Linked DNA regions of Homo sapiens: all the other regions are linked to region 3. The links come from fine-mapping of genetic effects on gene expression. A gene starts in region 3. Each other region holds a variant in brackets. All regions are shown on one strand. Distances are between the middles of the regions.

What was found.
Region 1: its variant is fine-mapped to the expression of ECHDC2 in whole blood (TOPMed, PIP above 0.99).
Region 2: its variant is fine-mapped to the expression of ECHDC2 in lymphoblastoid cells (CAP, PIP 0.95).
Region 4: its variant is fine-mapped to the expression of ECHDC2 in anterior cingulate cortex (GTEx, PIP 0.97). The same link has a PIP of 0.9 or more in cerebellum.

What each region holds. Positions count from the first base shown.
Region 1 is chr1:52,773,736-52,778,936 of GRCh38, reverse strand. The region is part of intron 3 of ZYG11B (zyg-11 family member B, cell cycle regulator); the gene reads right to left. Among named protein-coding and RNA genes, the nearest start is that of ZYG11B, 50 kb to the right of the region's middle. The variant T/G (reference allele first, on the strand shown) is at 2,050.
Region 2 is chr1:53,901,566-53,906,748 of GRCh38, reverse strand. DIO1 (iodothyronine deiodinase 1) reads right to left here. Exons shown (of 4, transcript NM_000792.7): 2 at 1,940-2,083; 3 at 455-654. LOC124904180 (a long non-coding RNA gene) reads left to right here and starts at 51. Exons shown (of 2, transcript XR_007066095.1): 1 at 51-338. The variant T/A (reference allele first, on the strand shown) is at 2,158.
Region 3 is chr1:52,918,826-52,923,990 of GRCh38, reverse strand. ECHDC2 (enoyl-CoA hydratase domain containing 2) reads left to right here and starts at 2,251. Exons shown (of 10, transcript NM_001198961.2): 1 at 2,251-2,438. The coding sequence starts at 2,318. It also overlaps the pseudogene LOC112268226. RefSeq lists silencers at 2,275-2,504, 2,353-2,531 and an enhancer at 1,866-2,548.
Region 4 is chr1:52,959,883-52,964,882 of GRCh38, reverse strand. SCP2 (sterol carrier protein 2) reads right to left here. Exons shown (of 16, transcript NM_002979.5): 6 at 3,254-3,380. Among named protein-coding and RNA genes, the nearest start is that of SCP2, 35 kb to the right of the region's middle. The variant T/A (reference allele first, on the strand shown) is at 1,993.

The DNA of each region.
Region 1 (5,201 bases), 150 kb after region 3:
CGTTATGCTTGGCTCAGAATACTTTCTCCATAAGTATTCATCAAATAAATGTATCAATTAATTTCCCCAGATTTATCACGCTCCTTTTCAGCACCAAGAGGTTCTGTTTAAAATTAAGTCTTTCTAGGGATTCCCAACATAAAAGTATATTATTTTAAGATAATACGCTTATCTTAAAATGTAGTTCAGGTGCCATTCGGCAACCAAACGTAGGTAGCAGAAAGTGGCTCTTTATAAAAGTAATCCAACTAGTAAGTGAAAAATAAATGATTAAAATATCACCATAATCCCCAATGAATTGATAGATCTAGCTACTAAGTGTCAATAACTGCTAACATCACAGAAAGAGAAACAACTAGATATTTATGTACCTCATAACGTAAGAATACAACACCTAAGGGTCTGGCCAAAGGGATCTAACGTAAGTCTAATTAAGCCTCCAAATCCAGCTACCAATTTGCAGAAAATACAAAGAGAAAGATGCACCATTAGTATACAATCAGCAAAATCCAGGCTGGCAGAGTGGCTTATATCTGTAATCCCAGCACTTTCGGAGGCTGAGGCAGGAGCATCACTTTAACCCCAGGAGTTCCAGACCAGCCTGGGCAACACAGCAAGACCCTGTCTCTACAAAACATCAACAAATACAATAAAATCCAGACTGAGGGAAACTCTACAAATCCAAACGATAGATTATTCAATAAACAAATTATAAGGAAAAGAAAGGGATGAGGAGAAACCTATAAACTAAAAGATACTCAAAAGACATCAAATTGTTTTAAACAGACAAGATTATACAGGTGCCTAAATAGTTGGGTCATAAAATTATAAAGAAATGAAAGGACATGGTTGGGTGTAGTGGCTCGCGCCTGTAATCCCACCACTTTGGGAGGCTGAAGCGAGCTTTGGGGTAGATGACAAAGTTCTGTTACTTAACCTGAGTGATGGTCTCAAGTGTGTTCACTTTATTTTCAACTCATTAAGCTATATAATTATTTACTGCCTTTGTCTCTGTTTTATTTTACAATAAAGTTTTAAAAAATGCCAAAAAACGTCATTCAGAGCGACTATCTCATAATAAGGGGAAGATTTAGTCTTTTTTGGCAGTAACATTATACAGTGTGACACAAAAGTAATCAAATATTTTAAAAATATATTACTCAGTAACTAAGTTGTATATAAACATATAATATTCAGCCAGGCATGATGGCTCATGCCTGTAATCCCAGCACTTTGGGAGGTAGAAGCAGGAGGATCACTTGAGCCCAGGAGTTCAAAACCAGCCTGGGGAACATAGTAAGACCCTGTCTCTATAAAAGAAAAGAAAAATTAGTTACGTGTGATGGTGCATGCCTGTAGTCCCAGCTACTTGGGAGACTGAAGAGGACTGCTTGAGCCCACGAATTTGAGGCTGCAGTAAGCCATGACTGTGCCACAGCACTCCATGATGCGCAACAGAGTGAGACTCTATCAAAAAAAACAAAAAAGCCTATAAACGTTCAGATTGGAATATGCAGCTTTGAGGAAATGAAGGGATGTATCATGGTTGACATTTCAACCATTAATAGGATATGCTACAAGAGTCTGAAATGAATTAGACTACAGTATTGATATATGTCACATGACACAAGGGTACATATGAAGAATTTCTAAGATTGTTGAAATAATAATAAAAGTTTCTTTACTTCCATTACTTTACGTCTTTTCTCTTTTTTTTCCTTTTTTTTGAGATACGGTCTTGCTCTGTCGCCCAGACTGGAGTGCAGTGGCACGATCTCGGCTCACTGCAACCTCTACTTCCCGGGTTCAAGCAATTGTCATGCCTCAGCCTCCTGAGTAGCTGGGATTACAGGCGCCCGCCACCACGCCCGGCTAATTTTTGTATTTTTAGTAGAGACGGGATTTCGTCATGTTGGCCAGGCTGGTCTCGAACTCCTGACCTCAAATGATCAGCCAACCTCGGCCTCCTAAAGTGCTGGGATTACAGGCATGAGCCACCACTTCCAGCCTCCATTACTTTACTTCTTTAAACCCTTTTTAAACTTTCTA[T/G]TTATGTATAACATACATACACAAACTGGTTTGGACTACATATTCACATATACAAATGGGTATTTAATAAAATTTTTCAAAGTGTTCAGTTCATTGAATCACCCAGAACTTTTTCTTATAAATTCAGAAAAAAACAAAAAATGCTGAAATGTGAAATGAAAAAAACTCTAAGAGGGAAATATAAAATAATCTAAATCAGACTTTATTCTTCCTTTACCCACATTTGGTTGGTTCCAACAGCTTTATAAATCTCTTATACGAAATATATCCTCAAGTTACCTTGAATATAAAATTAAAGAACTCTTGTTACTGGAATGTTAAAGACTCTAAGCCAATTTTTTTTTTTTTTTTTTTGAGACACAGTCTTTCTCTATTGCTCAGTCTGGAGTGCAGTGGCACAATCTTGGCTCACTGCAACCTCCACCTCCCAGGTTCAAGTGATTCTCCTGCCTCAGCCTCCTAAGTAACTGGGACAACAGGCATCTGTCACCATGCCCGGCTAAATTTTTTTGTATTTTTAGTAGAGGCAAGGTTTCATCATGTTGGCTAGGCTGGTCTCCAACTCTTGGCCTCAAGTGATCCGCATGTCTTGGCCTCCCAAAGTGCTGGGATTATAGGCGTGCTCTAAGCCAACTTTATTGCATATATATATATATATTTTTTTTTTTAAGACAGAGTTTTGCTCTTGTTGTTCAGGCAGGAAATCAATGGCGCCATCTTGGTTCACCACAACCTCCACCTCCTGGGTTCAAGCAATTCTCCTGCCTCAGCCTCCTAAGTAGCTGGGATTACAGGCATGCGCCACCACGCCCGGCTAATTTTTTTGGGATTTTTAGTAGAGGCGGGGTTTCTCCATGTTCGTCAGGCTGGTCTCCAACTCCTGACATCAGGTGATCCGCCTGCCTCAGCCTCCCAAAGCACTGGGATTACAGGCGTGAGCCACTGCATCCAGACATTGCCTCTATGTTTTATTCAGTGAACAACACTTCTCTACCCAGTGACAAACCCTCACATCTGGCTGCTCAAATTATAAGTATATTCTTTTTTCTCCCAAAGTGCTGGGATTACAGGCGTGAGCCACCACGCCTGGCCGACTAAAGCTATTTTTAAATTAGTCTGTATCTTCTCCACTAGACTAGAATTCCTCAAGAGCAGGGATATTAACAGATATCTTTTTGTTGTTGTTTTTTTGTTTTTGAGACACAGACCCACTCTATCGCCCAGGCTGGAGTGCAGTGCCACAATGCTGGCTCACTATAACCTCCGCCTCCCAGGTTCAAGCAATTCTCCTGCCTCAGCCTCCTGAATAGATGGGATTACAGGCATGTGCCACCATGCCTGGCTAATTTTTGTATTTTTAGTAGAGACGGGGTTTCACCACGTTGGCCAGGCTGGTCTTGAACTCCTGACCTCAAGTGATCCGCCCGCCTTGGCCTCCCAAAGTGCTGGGATTACAGGTGTCAGATGGGGGTCTCACTATGTTGCTCAGGCTAGTCTTGAACTCCTGAGCTCAAGCAATCCTCCCACCTCGGCCTCCCAAAGTGCTGGGATTAAAGGCATGAGCCACCACGCCTGGCCAAAAAACATTTATGTACCTTCACTGCATGTTGATTACTGCAGTTCAATATAGGAGTCTGACTTCAAGGGAGAGCTCTAAGTTAAGACACAAATTTAGGAGTCATCAGCATATAGATTTAAGGACTGAGGTGCAGAACTCTCCAACAGTTAGAAGCCTGGAAGATGAGGAAGAACCAACAAAGGAAATTGAGGCTTAGTAGCAAGACAAGTAGGAAAAAAAAAACAAGACAAGTATGATATCCTGGAAGCTAAGTTAAAAAAAAAAAGGTATCTCAAGGAAGAGGCAAAGATCAATTATGACAAATACCATTTTACTTTGGGTCAAATAAAATGAAGACTAAGAACTAACACTGGGTTTAGCAGATTTTCAATGTTCTCATGAGTTGGGAGCTACAGCATGGTAGATAATCCAAGTATGGGATAAGGTGGCCAACAAATGTAAGAATTCTAGTTCTGGAGAAATGGAAGGTTCAGGAAACTGATGGTAACAGAAGAGAAAACTGAGTAGGGAAATAGTGAGAAGAGAAAATCGAGTGGGGAAATACTGATGACAGAGCTGGAAATTCTATGGTAAGAAAGCCAGGCTAGGCTCAGGGGCTTACACCTATAATCCCAAAACTAGGAGGCCAAGGTGGGAGGATCGCTGAGCAAGAACCCATCTTTACAAAAACACTAAAAAAAAAAAAAAAAAAAAAAAAAATTAGGCCAGGCACAGTGGCTCACGCCTGTAATCCTAGCACTTTAGGAGGCCGAGGCAGGCAGATCACCTGGGTCAGGAGTTCAAGACTAGCCTGGCTAACATGGTAAAACCCCATCTCTACCAAAAATACAAAAATTAGCTGGACATGATAGCAGGCACCTGTAATCCCAGCTACTCAGGAGGCTGAGGCAGGAAATTCGTCAAAACCTGGGAGGTGGAGGTTGCTGTGAGCCGAGATCACGCCATTGCACTCCAGCCTGGGTGACGGAGCTAGACTCCATCTCAAAAAAAAAAAAAAAAAATTAGCCAGTTATGGTGGCACATGCTTGTGGTCCCAGCTACTCAGGAGGCTAAGCCAGGAGGATCCACTCGAGCCCAGGAGGTAGAGGCTGCAGTGAGCCTGTTCATGCCCACTGTACTCCAGCCTGGGTAACAGGGCAAGACCCTGCCTCTGAGGAAAAAAAAAAAAAAAGTTATTGTAAAACAGTGATTCATGAGTTTGGCTGGACACTGCAATCATCTAAGCTTTAAAAAATACTGATGCCTGGGTCTCACCTCTCTTCCTAACGCAGTCTTTGCACGTATTATTCTGTCTGCCTGGAATGCTCTCTACTGAGCTACTCACCCTTAAGATCTCCACTCATCCATCAATTTCTCAGAGAAACCAGGCCGAGGGTGGTGGCTCACTCCTGTAATCCTAGCACTTTGGAAGGCCAAGACAGGCGAACTGCCTGAGCTCAGGAGTTCGAGACTAGCCTTGGCAACATGGTGAACCCCTGTCTCTACTAAAATACAAAAACTTAGCCGGGCATGGTGGTGTGTGCCTATAGTCCCAGCTACTTGGGAGACTGAGGCAGGAGAATCACTTGAACCT
Region 2 (5,183 bases), 980 kb before region 3:
GGAGGTGGAGGTTGCAGTGAGCCAAGGTCACCCCTCTGCACTCCAGCCTGGGCAACAGAGTGAGAGTCTGTCTCAAAAAAAAAAAAGAAAGAAAGAAACCCAAAAAACAGAGAACAAAAACAACATTCTCTGTCTCTGAGTTTGAAACCAGACCAGGACTGGGCCATCATCTGGGTTCAAAAGGAAGCCGGGAGGATGCAGCTCCAGTCCAAATGCTAGGGACATTCGTGTGCATTATTTCATCCCCCGTGAGGTGGAGACCAACATTCCCATTTTGCAGAAGAGGAAATTGAAGGAACTCCAAGAAGTGAAAGCACTCGCCCATGGTCACATGGCTGGTAAGTGGCTGGGTGGTGATTTGAATCCAGTTCTGCTTGATGCAAAGCCTTCTCTTTGCCCTTGCCCTCCCTGGGCCCCTTTGCCCTCCCTGGGCCCCCTGTCCCCAGGTCACCACCTTGTAGAGGATCCTGCCCTCCTGGATTATGTAGAGCCTCTCAGGCAGTGCTGCGTAGAGCTGGCTGCTCTGGTTCTGCATGGTGTCCACCACCACAGGGCACTGGGGGCTCCTGGCCAGCAGTAGATGGGCTGCCTGCAGGCGATCCTGAAGGTTCTGGTGATTTCTGATGTCCATGTTGTTCTTAAAAGCCCAGCCATCTACAAGAGAAAGGCCAGGCACCGAGTCCCATTGACACAGCACACACTTCCTGCAGACTAAATAGCCCCTCACTTTTAACTGAGGTTCTCAGAGGAGCCCTTGGCAATGATTTGGCCTGGTTTCCCATTATGGTTGAATGTGCAAGGTCACGTCAGGAATTAGTGATTGATCCAGAACTGAAGCCCAGGGCTTCTGTCTGCCAGACCCCTGCTCTTCAACGTGAAATAGTCCAATAAACCAGCACTCCTTGATCTTGAATGTGCATGAATCATTTGGGGACCTTGTTATAGGAAGATTCTGATTCGGTCTGTCGAAGGTGGAACTGAGAGTCCATCTAACTCCCAGGATGCCAAGACTGCTGGCGCCTAGACCATACTTGGAGAGGCAAGGGTTTAGATCAGTAGTTCTCTAAGTGTGTGTCCCCAGACTAACAGCATCAGCGTCACCTGGAAGTTTGTTAAGTAGTGCAAACCCTAGGCGTCAGCGTGGATGGACTAGAAATGGGACCCAGACATCTGCGTTTTAACAGCCTTCCAGATGATTCTAATTCATACTGAGTTTAAGTACTATTTTTTCTCCTAATTCTTCACCACAGTGTTCTTTCAAAAATACAAATATAGGCTGGGTGCAGTGGCTCACGACTGTAATTCCAGCACTTTGGGAGGCCGAGGTGGGCAGATTGTTTGAACCTAGGAGTTTGAGACCAGCCCGAGTAACATGGTGAAACTCTGTTTCTACAAAAAATACAAAAAACTAGCTGGGCATGGTGGCGTATGCCTGCAGTACAGCTACTTGGAAGGCTGAGACAGGAGGATCGATTTAGCCCAGGAGGTTGAGGCTGCAGTGAGCCATGTGAGTGCTATTGCATTCCAGCCCCAGCTCAGGCGACAGAACAAGACCCTATCTCAAAAAAAAAAAAAAAAAAAAATAGCCATAAGGCCGTCATTTCACCTGTGACATTTTGGGTCTGAATTCTTTGTAAATGTGTTCAAATCAGTTCTTCTCCCTTGACTTCCCTATTTATCCGATCAAAATGTTAGAATCCTCTCCTAGCCAGACCCTGTCACTCCAGGTGTTCTGCTCTCTGTACCCTGGTTGAAAGCACAGACTGTGAGGTTAGCCCAGTGCAGGGCCTGGGAGTGGTGGGTGCTCAGTGAATAGTGGCTCTTTCCCTCTCCCCTCCTCTTCCTCCTTCCACCTCCCAACCTTGAGATGGGGCCTGGGGAAAAGGGAGAGAGAAAAGACAGTGGGAAGAGGTAGAAGAGGCAGAGAATCTTTCTGTACCTGATGCATGTGCTTCTTCAATGTAAATGACAAGAAAATCTGCTATGGAACTAAAGTCTTCAATAAGCCTCTTGAACTGGTCAAATTTGAACATAAATGAAGGTCAGGTACAACTTCCAAAATTCAGCACCAGTGGCCTATTACCTGAAACAGCAACAACCATCACAAACTGAGACCCTACACACAGCTTTCTTTTACAAGCACCATTTTCACTCCTA[T/A]GTTCAATTCTGTTATTTTTATTTCCCCCTACCCCCCACCCCAGGATGGGTCCTAGGCACTGGGGTCCGACACCTAGAGAGCATGACTTAGCAGGGGCTGGAGCTGGTTTACTCCTCTCTAAAATGAGAGGTTTTTTTAGGTGGTCTCAGTGGACCACCTGCAGTTGCCGCATAGCAGTTTAAATATAAGAGGAGTCCCTTTCATGCAGTTTATAAGGCAGGTATGCATCCATTCTGTCATGCGATGGGATTAGTAATACTGCAAGGTTGGTCATTTTTTCCCCCCATTTTATAGACAAAGAAACTGAGTTTTACACATTTGCTCCAGGTCACACAGCAGGTCAGTGAGGAGTTAAAATGAACATTCTGGTTTCTGAACTCTCAATTCAGTGCTCTTTCTATTCATAGCACTTCAGTTTCCTCATCCACAAGGGGGGCATAATAATCCTTTGTAGCACTGTTAGGAGGATTAAATAAATTAATAGAGATAAGGGCTTAAACTGGTTACTGGCCCATAGTAGGTGCTTCATAAATATAAGCTGTTGCTATGAGCTTGTATCTCCTCCCTGAGCTATGAAGTAGGGAGGCACCGAAGGCAGCTCCACAAAGAGAGTGAATGCTAGGAGCAGGACCAGCTGCATAATTTGCTGGGCCTGCCGCCAAATGAAAATGCAGGGTTCCTTGTTCAAAAAGTGGGGGAAAGTGCCATTAAATTTATTAAAATATAAAGACGTTTCTTTTTTATTTTTTTGAGATGGAGTCTCACCCAGGCTGGAGTGCAGTGGTGTGATCTCAGCTCACTGCAAACTCCGCCTCCGGGGTTCAAGCGATTCTCCTGCCTCAGCCTCCTGAGTAGCTGGGACTCCAGGTGCACACCACCACACCTGGCTAATTTTTGTATTTTTAGTAGAGACGGGGTTTCACTATGTTGGCCAGGCTGGTCTCAGACTCCTGACCTCAAGTGATCCGCCGGCCTCGGCCTCCCAAAGTGCTGCGATTACAGGCCTGAGCCACCGTGCCCAGCCTGAAATACAAAGACATTTCTAATCTTCTGTAGTCCCTCTCTTGACCTGGCATCGTGTCTTTTAGTTGCTATTTGATGTCATACTCCCCTGGGGTATTCATAGAGTGAGAGCAGATCCTCACAGCTACCCAGCACCCCAGAGACCGAGTGTGTGTGCATTTCCCTTTCCCTCCAGCCACCAGACCAACATGCCATGCCCCGCCCAGCATCACAGAAGTTGAGCCAGACATGGCCCCTTCCCACCTGCCCACCACCCCAACCCACAGGGTATTGCAACCTCTGTAAGGAACATACTAGGTACCTTGATGGGGGAAAGGGTGGGCAAGAGGCTTCCCCCACCCTCAGTCACTTGGCGAATTGCACTATGGCACTGCGAGCCCGGGATGGGGACAGCTGCCATGCAACACTGGGGGACGTGACACCTGACCCCCACCTTCCTCATGTCTGTATCCAGGCCCACTCTGGGGTCAGGAGATGGCAGCAGTCACTGGGTGGAAGCAGGAAGGAGCACCTGGGGATGGGAGAGTGGGCCTTAGAGAACATGTCCTGGAGGGGCAGGGAGGCTGTGGAAGGCAGGAGCCTGTGCAAGCAGAGGCTCCAAGTCCTCAGGGCATGCTCCATTGTCCCGTAGGGTTTCACTTACAAAATGCAGATTCAAAGATAAAATTATGAAGAATTTCAAGACATACTTTACAACTCTGGTGTGCTAAAAACAACAACAGCAACAAAAATTCAAGACAGCTGCTGCAGAACATTAAATCCCAAGGACAAGGCCCTTTTGAGTGTAGGTCCCTGTGTGATTCACTGGTCCCATGTCCATGAAGCCAGCCCTGGGTGGAAGCCTTCTGTAACTCCCCATCCTAGACCAAGGACAACTCTGGGGAGCAGCTGGCCTCCTGTGGTTTCTTACGGCCAGAGCTGACATTGTTGAGCCCTTACCATACATTTATTGGAGCATGGCTAGTCTTGCACTGTGACATGGCCTGTTTAAGTGTCCACATACCCCCAAACCCCCCTACTCATTGTCCCCTGAGGGCAGGGCCTGTTCCTCATTCATCCTCGAATCTCCAGAATGTAGTATACTCTCATCCTATCTACAAATATTTATTCAGCACTTAAAATATGCAAGTCTCCCTGCCACACACTGGGGATTCGGCAGAGAATGAGACCAGCAGCTCTCTGGCTGTGTGCAGTTTGAAGTCTGCTTAGTGGGGAGACAGGCAAAAAAAAGTAAGTAAATGCGTAAATGAAGAAGTTTCAAATTGTGATCAGTGTTACGAGAGAGGCTATAAAGGAGTTACCTATTTTAGACAGGCGGGGCAGGGAAGGCCTTTGAGGAGCTGCCATTTAACCTGAGAAATGAAAAACAGGAGAGAACCAGCCATGGGAAAAGGGAGAAAGGGATTCTAGCCAAAGAGACTCACACAGAGTCCCCAAGGAGGGAGAGAACTTGGTGTGTTCAAGGCCCCACAAAACCACTGGCAGGAACCCGGCATAGAGAGCAACAAGAGAAGGGTTGGAGTGTTAGGGATGGACCAGAGCAGGCAGGCTCCCATAAGCCTTTGTAAAGAATCTGGATTTTATCCTAGGTATGTGGGCTATCATAGGAATATAAAGCAAGGGTGGTGAATATTATTGCATATTTTCTTTTTCATTTTTTTTTTTTTTTGAGAGATGAGATCTTGTTATGTTGCCCAGACTGGAATGCAGTGGCTATTCACAGGTGCCATCATAATACACTACAGCCTTGAACTTCTGGGCTCAAGTGATCCTCCTGCCTCAGCCTTCTGAGTAGCTGGAACTATAGGTGCACTTGACTATATCTGACTTGTTTGTTGCAGTTTTGGCTGCCCAACTCCTAACTCTCCTTCCTACTTAGAATTCCCTATTTTGTATTCTATTTATGAAACAGTGTGCCCAGCCTTGCTCTTTGGAAGACAGAAGGGCCAGGTTCGCACTCTGCCCCTGGCAGCCAGGGCTCAGGCAGTGACCCCAGCTGGGC
Region 3 (5,165 bases):
TTTTAATTTTTGTTATTGTGCTTTGTTTTCATTTTCATTATTTATTTTGAGTAAGTTATACTTAAAACAAAAATCAAGATTCAAAAAGTATAAAAGGGGCCAGGCATGGTGGTTCACACCTGTAATCCCAGCACTTTGGAAGGCCAAGGTGGACAAATCGCCTGAGCTCAGGAGTTCGAGACCAACCTTGGCAACATGGCAAAACCCCGTCTCTACAAGAAATACAAAAATTAGCCAATGTTGTGGCATGTACCTGTGGTCCCAGCTACTCAGGAGGGTGAGGTGGAAGGATCACCTGAGCCCGGGAGGCAGAAGCTGCAGTGAGCCAAGATACTGCCACTGCACTCCAATCTGGGCAACAACAACATCCTGTGTCCAAAAACGTATAACAGGTCAAACCGTAAAACTTGTCTCTCTTACCCTTATTCCCAGCCTCTCGGTTCTTCTTCCCTATCCTTCCAAAGATGTTTTATGTAAATACAATCAAATATACACATGCATACTCTTATCCCCCTTGTTAACACAAATTTTTGTTTTCTTTATTATTTCTTTCAATAGAGGTGGGGTTTTGCTATGTTGGCTAGGTTGGTCTTGAACTCCTGGCCTCAAGCAATCCTCCTGTCTCGGCCTCCCAAAGTGCTAGGTTCATGAGCATGAGCCACCAGACCCGGCCAAATTTTAGCTTTCTTTACACACTATTCTGCATTTTGACTTGTTTCATATACCAATAGATTTTGAAGATTGTTTCATATCAATGCATAAACAGTTTCCTGTGTTTTGTTATAGCTGCATAGTATTCAGATTATTGATGTACCTTTTTTTTTTTTTTAAGTAGAGATAGGGGCTTGCTATATTTCCCAGGCTGGTTTCAAACTCCTGGCTTCCAGGGACCTACCTGCCTTGGCCTTCCAAAGTGTTGGAATAATAGGGTGAGCCACCACACACAGCCCCATAATTTATTTAACCAACCCTCTATTGATGGATATTGAGACTGTGATATAGTTTGGGTGTTGGATCCCTCCAAATCTCACGTTGAAATATGATTCCCAATGTTGGAGGTGGGCCCTGTTGGGAGGTGACTGGATCATGGGGACAGATCCCTTGTGAATGGTTTAGCACCATCCCCTTGGCGATAAACTGGGACCTCCCCACCTAATTTTCTTGTTCCTATTCTCGCCATGTGACATGCTGGATCCCTGTCACCTTCAGCCATGATTGTAAGCTTCCTGAGGCCTCACCAGAAGCACATGACAGCACCATGTGCTTCCAGTCTTTTGCTATTATAAACAATGCTGCAATGTACAGCCATGAACACGTGTCATTTCACAGCTGTGTGGATTTATCTGTAGGTTAAATTTCTAAAATTGGAATTTCTGGGGCAATGAGCTTGTGCATTTATAATTTTGATATAAATTACCAGTTGCTTTTCATTTAAAGACATTCACATCAGCAATGTGAGAGTGCTTTGTATATACTGTGTTTAAGAGAATAATTTTTTTTTTTGGGACGCAGTTTCGCTCATTGCCCAGCCTGGAGTGCAGTGGCGCGATCTCAGCTCACTGAACCTGTGCCTTCCGAGTTCAAGTGATTCTCCTGCCTCAGCCTCCCAAGTAGCTGGGATTACAGGCGCCCGCCACCACGCCCAGCTAATTTTTTTGAATGTTTAACAGAGACAGGGTTTCGTCATGGTGAAACCCTGCCTCTACTAAAAATACAAAAAAAATTAGTTGGGCGTGGTGGCGCGTCCCTGTAATCCCAGCTACTTGGGAGGTTGAGGCAGGAGAATCGCTTGAACCCGGAGGCGGAGGTTACAGTGAGCCAAGATCAAGGCACAGCACTCCAACCTGGGCGACACAGCGAGACTCCGTCTCAAAAAAAAAAAAAAAAAAAAAAAGTGAGGCGCAAATGGGAGGTGAAGCAGTGAGGTTCGCAAGTGTAGACACGCTCAAGGGACTCATTAAATGTCATTTCATTTAAAAAATGAAATTGAGCATATGTGCAAGCAAGGTTCACACACCCCATTTAATCTTCACACCACCACGGGGTAGTCACTATTATCCCCATTTTACAGGATTAAAACACTGACGCTGGGAGGTTGACAGAGTTACACCAAATCACACAGAGGAGCTGGGCTTCCCCCGACCTCCTCCGCTCAAGTCTCCCTGTCCCCGGGAGGTGCGGAAGGAGGCAACAGACGCTTGGCCCATAGGTGGAGCAATTGGCGAAGGCTTCGCCCGACGCCGGAACTGCGAGCTCTCAGCGGGAGCCGAGACGGTGCAGGGCCGGAGAAGCACCTTCACTCCCAGCCTGCGCCCCGATGCTGCGCGTTCTGTGCCTCCTGCGCCCCTGGAGGCCCCTTCGGGCCCGCGGCTGCGCTTCCGACGGGGCGGCCGGGGGCTCAGAGATCCAAGTGCGCGCCCTGGCGGGTCCGGACCAAGGTAAATGTGCAGTTCCGGGGCGGCGCATGACGCGACTGGGACTAGGCCGGAGGCAGCGGGGGACCGGCAGGTGGGCCGCTCAGTGCGTTGAAGGATTCGATCCCCAGTCCCTCCCTCCCAGTTCTAGGCGCCCCAAACCGCTCCAGGCCTGAGAGGTGGGCGGCCGCCTTAGTGGCTCCAGACTCTAGCTGGGGGCGGGGGGCCTCTGGCAACCTCGGTCTCTTCAAAGGCCCTTTGGGGTCTTCCGACTGTGTGGAAGGGGGAGCGGGGTCCGCACGGGTAGGACTGGGCCCCGCGGCCCCCAGGCCAGGAGCGTTTAAGTGCGCGTTCCCCTCCCCCGCCAAGGGTCCTGGCCCGGTTCGGGGGCGGAGGCAGCGGAGCCAGTCCCAGTGCCCAGTGCGGCAGCGGGCAGAGTGAGGAGGGTGCCTCTCCAGCCGCGCGCCCGCCCTGGGCCGCTAGCGAACCTTTGCGTCCTTCTGGCTCCAGGGAAAAGTTCGCTGTTTCTCCGCCTTTTGGCCAAGATCAAGGATAGTATGGAGCGGGGACGAGGGGTGGGGGGCAAAGTTCGCGGGTCACTGGCAGAAAACGCCTCTGATCGCGTGTTGCGTTTTTGTTGTTGTTGTTGTTTGAACTTCTGGAGCATTCAGTGGTGCTGATAACGCTCCTCAGTCCTCTGCTGGTAACCATCAGGGCTAGGCGCTTCTCCTGCCTTGGGTCTCCTCCCCGCATCTCATCCCCTGTCTCCTGCATTTGATACACAGATGGCATTGTACTGTACATTTCGTTGTATTGCTTCTTTTTTTTTTTTAACAAAAGTTTATTCTTAAATGTACAACAGCTCCAAGACAACACTTAATTCCAGCCATAGGTGGCAAAAGATGTTATGGCAGGGAATAGAGAGGTTTAAATACTGATGAAATAAAGGGTCACCATCTCCTTAGGCACAGGGAACAGCTTACTTTTTGCCAGATTTCTTAATTCCACTTGTGGCCAAGGGCCCCTTCCCCGTGGCCTTCCATTTTAGCTCCTCGAGTTTCTTCTGCTCCTCTTTTTGTTTCTGCTTGAAAGCCTTATCTTCCTCGTCCATCTCCTTGGCCTGCATTCTTGGGCTGTTTCAGTGGCTTCTTGCCACCTTCGTGGCCGGACATGGCGCCTGCCGCCCCTTCCCCAGCAGTATTGCTTCCTTTTTACCGGCTTGACAACAAGTTTGAAGCGGGGCTTTGCCATAAAATCCAGTTCCTTGCTCCCTGCTGTTGCCCACTGTTCCCAAGTGTGCATCTACCACCTTCAGTGGACACGGACAGGCCACCTAGAGTCCCACTGCACCACTTGGTGAGAATTTCCTTGAACAGTTAATATTGCTGAACCTTATACCCCCAATCTCATGCTTAGTTCACTACCCAACTGGCAACAGCTCTTAAGACAGTCAAGATTATTCTCCCCACTTTACAGATTAAAAAACTGAGGCACAGAAGGTTAAGTTATTTGAACCAGGTCTGATTTCAAAGCCTGTGTTCTCAACCATTAGGTAATCACTGGCTCTTCTAGTAATTCAGTGACTCAAAATACAGACTTGTACATGTGTAAACACAAAATTATCATGGGTTAAAGACCTTTAGGCTCACTTGCAAATATCGGGAATCATTTTATCCAAAAAAGAATGACAAGGATCAGCAGATTAAGCCTCTGCCCCTGCCAGAGGGCTCAAAGGGCAGGAAAAGGCAGTGAGAGAAGGAGAGACAGAAACCAAGATGACAGTGCAGAGGAGGCATGGGGATGAGATCACACACGGAGCCCTCACAGGGAATGAGTTGGGGTCATTTGATGTTCATATTAGAAGCTGCAGGTTCTGCCTTCCACTGGGGCTGATGGCACAAGAGCACTGTTACATTTTACCTGCTGCCTTTGAGCTTGAGGTTGGGTGGTAAACCATTCTTCACTGTTCTTAGCGGCTTTATTTCTCATAGAGTCATGTGTTGCTTAACAACGGGGCTACATTCTGAGAAATGCATCATTAGGTGATTGTGGTCATTGTGGGAGCATCACAGAGTGCACCTACACAGTCCTAGATGGGGTAGCCTACTGCACACCAAGGCTACATGGTGTATAGCCTGTTGCTCCTAGAATACAAACCTGGACAGCATGGTACCGGGCTGAATACTGTAGGCAACTGTAACACAATGGTAAATGTGTATCTGAACATAGAAAAGGCACAGTAAAAATACAGTCTAAAAGATTTTTTAAATAGTACACCTGTACTGGGCAGTTACCATAAATGGAGCTTGCAGGACTGGAAGCTGCACTGGGTGAGTCAGCGAGTGAATGGTGAGTGAATGTGAAGGCCTAGGACAGCAGGGACTGGTTTGGCACCAGGGACTATTTTCATGAAAGACAGTTTTTCCATGGACTTGCGGGCGGACAGATGGTTTGGGGATGAAACTGTTCCACCTCAGATCATCAGGCATTAGATTCTCATAAGGAGCTCGCAACAACCTAGATTCCTCACATGCACAGTTCACAATAGGGTTCGCACTCCTATGAGATTCTAATGCCACCACTGATCTGATAGGAGGTGGAACTCAGGTGGTAATTCAAGCCATGGGGAGCTGCTGTAAATACAGATGAAGCTGCTCATCTCCTGTTGTGTGGCCCAGTTCCTAGCAGGCCACAGACTGGGATGGGTCCACAGCCCGGGGGTTGGGGACCCCTGGCCTAGGACATTACTGT
Region 4 (5,000 bases), 41 kb before region 3:
ACTACCAGGCTCGGCTAATTTTTTGTATTTTTAGTAGAGACGGGGTTTCACCATGTTGGCCAGGCTGGTCTTGAACTCCTGACCTCAGGATCCGTCCGCCTTGGCCTCCCAAAGTGCTGGGATTACAGGCGTGAGCCACAGCACCCAGCCTTACATTTTTTAAAAATTACATAGCAATATAGGTAAAAAGAATTCATTAAAACAACAAGCATGGCAAAATGTTAATTTTTAGAAAATCTAGAGGAAAAGTATTAGGAATTCTTGTACTATTTTGGCAACATTCTTGTTCAGTCTGAAATTACTTCTAAACAAAATATTTTTAAAGTATATTACAATATACCTCTAAAAATGAAGCATATCATCTTTTAAAATCGACAAACCTGGGCCAGGCACGGTGGCTCACACCTGTAATCCCAGCACTTTGGGAGGCTGAGTTGGGCGGATCACGAGGTCAGGAGATTGAGACCATCCCGGCTAACATGGTGAAACCCCGTCTCTACTAAAAATACAAAAAATGCCATGTGTGGTGGTCGGGTGCCTATAGTCCCAGCTACTCGGGAGGCTGAGGCAGAAGAATGGCGTGAACCCAGGAGGCGGAGCTTGCAGTGAGCCAAGATCATGCCACTGCACTCCAGAGCGAGACTCTGTCTCAAAAAAAAAAAAAAAAAGAGAGAAAAGAAAAAAATTTGACAAACCTTTCAAATGACAACCATAAACAAATTTAATTTCAAATTATAATCTGGCCACATTCATTATCTAATTAAGTAATTTAAAATATTTATGATTTTTAAACAAAAATGCTATTACAATATTCAGTTTTCCTTCCCCTTCACAAAATAGGTCAAAAAAGAAAAAAGGAAAGCCAAGCACAAATGAAAATTTCAAGCAAAACATGTTTCTGTACCTATAATAAATGCTAACAAAAAGTACTTAATGTCCCTCAACTATGTACAGGAATGACAAGAAAACTAAAAGTTAATATACAGTAAAAGCTTTTTATTATTTAAAATTAAATATAGCTATATGAGAAACAATGAAAAGAATGGAGGTTTTATAGTATGGCAGATTTGGGTGTGAAACCCTCTCCTATCACCTATTAGAAGAAGTTACTCAAATTCTCCAAGCTTCAGGTTCCTCATATGAAAAATAGGCATACACTTACCTCTTAAAATAGTTGTTATATTTGGTGTGTAAAATATCTAAGATGTGTGAGGCACGCAACAAAGAGCAGCTACTATTACTGGGAGAAAGGGCTGCGCAAGGGCTTTTGAGTGAGACAGAAATAGAATGGAACATAGGCTCTGCTACTTATTGACCCTATCATCCTGGTCAAAAACTTGTCTGAATATCAGATTCTTCTGGTATAAAATGAGATAATAACACCTCCGATAATGGATTCTTGTGATAGCTGAATAAGATAACATACATATGGAAATTCACTCCTTCATTCAATAAATGTTTCTTGAGTATTTAAATATGCTGCAGACTATAGAAGAGAAAGAAAAAAAAAAAACTTCTTTCTGGTTAAATAACATGCCAAGCTCTGTGCTTGGCTGTGTATATCAAGGTAAACAAAGCAGACATGGACCTGCTTTCGTGGAGTTTATAGACTAATAAGGAAGATGAAAATTAAACAAGTAAAATCACATATGATAAATATATGAACATAAATAGTGCTAAGTGCTATGAAGGAAGCAATATGAAGCTATCTAAGAAAGAGGATAACAGGAGGGGACTACTTTGATTTGAATAGTCATGGAGGGTCTTTCTAAATTTTAAAGATGAATTAATTACACAACACTGATTTGTGCCAGGCACTATTCTTTTTTTTTTTTTTCTTTTATCCTTGGTTTAGCCAGGTACTATTCTAGGTTAACAATCAATGTGCAGGAAATAAGACAAATAAAAATCCATGCTTTTGTTGAACTTATATTCTGGTTGGAAGAGTCAATAAACAAGAATATATATATATATATCATGTTATATGGCACC[T/A]GTAATAATCTGACATATATGTATGTGTCAGATATATGTCAGATTATTATAGGTGCCATATAAAATGATAAAGCAGGAGATAGTGAATAGGAAGTTCTGGGAAGGAGAGTGATGAAAGAAAGCAGAAGGTGGCTTTTAAGCAAAGACCTGATGGAAGCAAGGGAGCTGGCTCTGACAATCTTAGGGTAGAAGCTAAGGCCCTACCTGAAGAAAAGCTTGGTGTGTTTGAGGAACAGAAAGAAAGGATAGTGTGGTTGGAGCAGACTAGTGAAAGAAAAAATGGTCGGAGATACAGTCAGAGAGCTAATGAGGGTGAAGGGAATGATCATGTAGAAGCTCATAGGCCATAAGAAGACATTTGGGTTTCAATCTGAATGTCATGAGAAACAATGGAGAATTTTAAGCACAGGAGTGAAATGATCTGATATATTTTAAAAGCATGGCTCTGGCTATAAAGTAGAGAATTGACTCTGGAGGTGCACAAGCAGAAGTAGAGAAACCAGTTAGAACACTCCTAAATTTCAGGTGCGAAATTATGCCACTACAGCAAAAGTAGCAGAAATGGTGAGAAATGGATAGACTGAGAATATAGAGAAAAGGCTTGCTGATATATTGAATGTAGAGTATGAATAGCTTGATCTTTCACCTCTTCTTGGTTGACATTTTAAGATCCTCAATTTATAGTCCATGGCCAGTCATGGTGGCTCACGCCTGTAATCCCAACACTTTGGGAGGCTGAGACAGGTGGATCACTTGAGCTCAGAGTTTGAGACCAGCCTGGGCAACATGGCAAAAAGCCACCTCTACCAAAAATACAAAAAATTAGCCGAACATGGTGGTGCACATCTGTAGTCCCAGCTATTCGAGAGGCTGGGGTGGAAGGATCGCTTGAGCCTGGGAGATGGAAGTTGCAGTGAGCCGAGATCGCACCACTGCACCCAACCTGCATAACAGAGTGAAACCCTCAGCTTGGAAAAAAATAATTTATAGTCCATGATTAAAGGAGACAAGATTTGTGTTATTTTTCCTATTTCAACTTCCTGCTATAGAGTACTCTAGGTACTTCCCATACCATAGTCTATATATAAATACTTTCTCTATGACTAAGTTCTACAAGAACTATTACTTCGATTTAATTCAAAAAACATTTTACATCTTATATATCCTGGCATCCTCCACAGTTCCTTAATAAATAACTGTCATTTCTCATCTCATGTATATAACTAGTAAGAAGCCTCAAAGTTTTTTAACTGTAACATACCATATTTTTCCATATGTTCTTTTCCAGCATACCCAAACATCTGAGGAGCAACTGGGTGAGCAGACAATCCATACTTATTGATCAGGAGGTCAACATGCTTATCAGTGGGAATGGTTCTATCTGAAAACTAAGAGGGGGGAACAAAATTTCATAAGCAGCTGACATGATAAGTGTCTCTTTCAAAACTACTACAGTGCTATTAAGATATTTATTTATTCTAAGCACATAGTACACCAGAAATTGTCAATGTGAATCAAATCAGTTAAGACATGCTCCACAGGGAAACATGGGAAGAAGAAAAAATAATCAAGTGACCAAAGAGGTATTAACTCTTTCAAGAAATATTTATTGGGCATCCAGTATGTGCCAGTAACTATTCCATCCTGTTGTGGGGTGGGGGTTGGGGGGAGGGATAGCATTAGGAGATATACCTAATGTAAATGACAAGTTAATGGATGCAGCACACCAACATGGCACATGCATACGTATGTAACAAACCTGCACGTTGTGCACATGTACCCTAGAACTTAAAGTATAATTAAAAAAAAAAAAAAAAAAAAAAAGAACCAAAGGAAATAGGCTGGGCGTGGTGGCTCACACCTGTAATCCCAGCACTTTGGGAGGCTGAGACGGGTGGATCACTTGAGCTCAGGAGTTCAAGACCAGCCTGGCCAACATGGTGAACCCTATCTCTACTAAAAATACATAAATTAGCCAGGTGTGGTGGTATGCACCTACAGTCCCAGCTATTCGGGAGGCTGAGGTGGGAGAACTGCTTGAACCCAGGAGGTGAAGATTGCAGTGAGCCGAGATCACACCACTACTGCACTCCAGCCTGGGCGACAGAGTGAGACTCTGTCTTGGGAATGAATAAATAAATAAATATACACACACACACACACACACACACACGCACATAATATATACACACAACACACATATATACATATATATACACATACATATATATACACATATATACATACATATATACACATATATACATACATATATACATATATACATACATATATACATATACATACATATATACATATATATACATACATATATACACATGTATATACATACATATATATACACACATATACACACACACACACACACACACACACACACACACACACATATACATAGTAGCCAGGCATGGTGGGTCATGCCTGTAATCCCAACACTTTGGCAGGCCCAGGTGGAAGGCCCACCTGAGCCCAGGAGTTCGAGACCAGCATGGGCAACATAGCAAGATTCCGTCTCTGCAAAAAATTAGCTGGGCGTGGCTAATTTAAAATAAAGAATAAATTAAACCCAAAGTAAGGAGAAGAAAGGAAACATCAAGAATGAGAGCAGATTGAAATAGAAAATGAGCAGAATGAAAAAGAATGAGTAGAAGTGAGTAGAATAAACTAGAAAAAAGAATATAGGCCAGGCGCCATGGCTCATACCTGTAATCCCAGCAATTTGGGAGGCCAGGCGGGCGGATCACGAGGTCAGGAGTTTGAGGCCAGCCTGGCCAACGTGGTGAAACCCCGTCGCTACTAAAAATAAAAAAATTAGCTGGGCGTGGTGGCAGGCGCCTGTAATCCCAGCTACTCAGGAGGCTGAAGCAGGAGAATTGCTTGAACCCGGGAGGCAGAGGTTGCAGTGAGCTGAGATCATGCCATTGCACTCCAGCCTGGGCGGCAGAGTGAGACTCTGTCTCAAAAAAAAAAAAAAAATTGAAAATCAG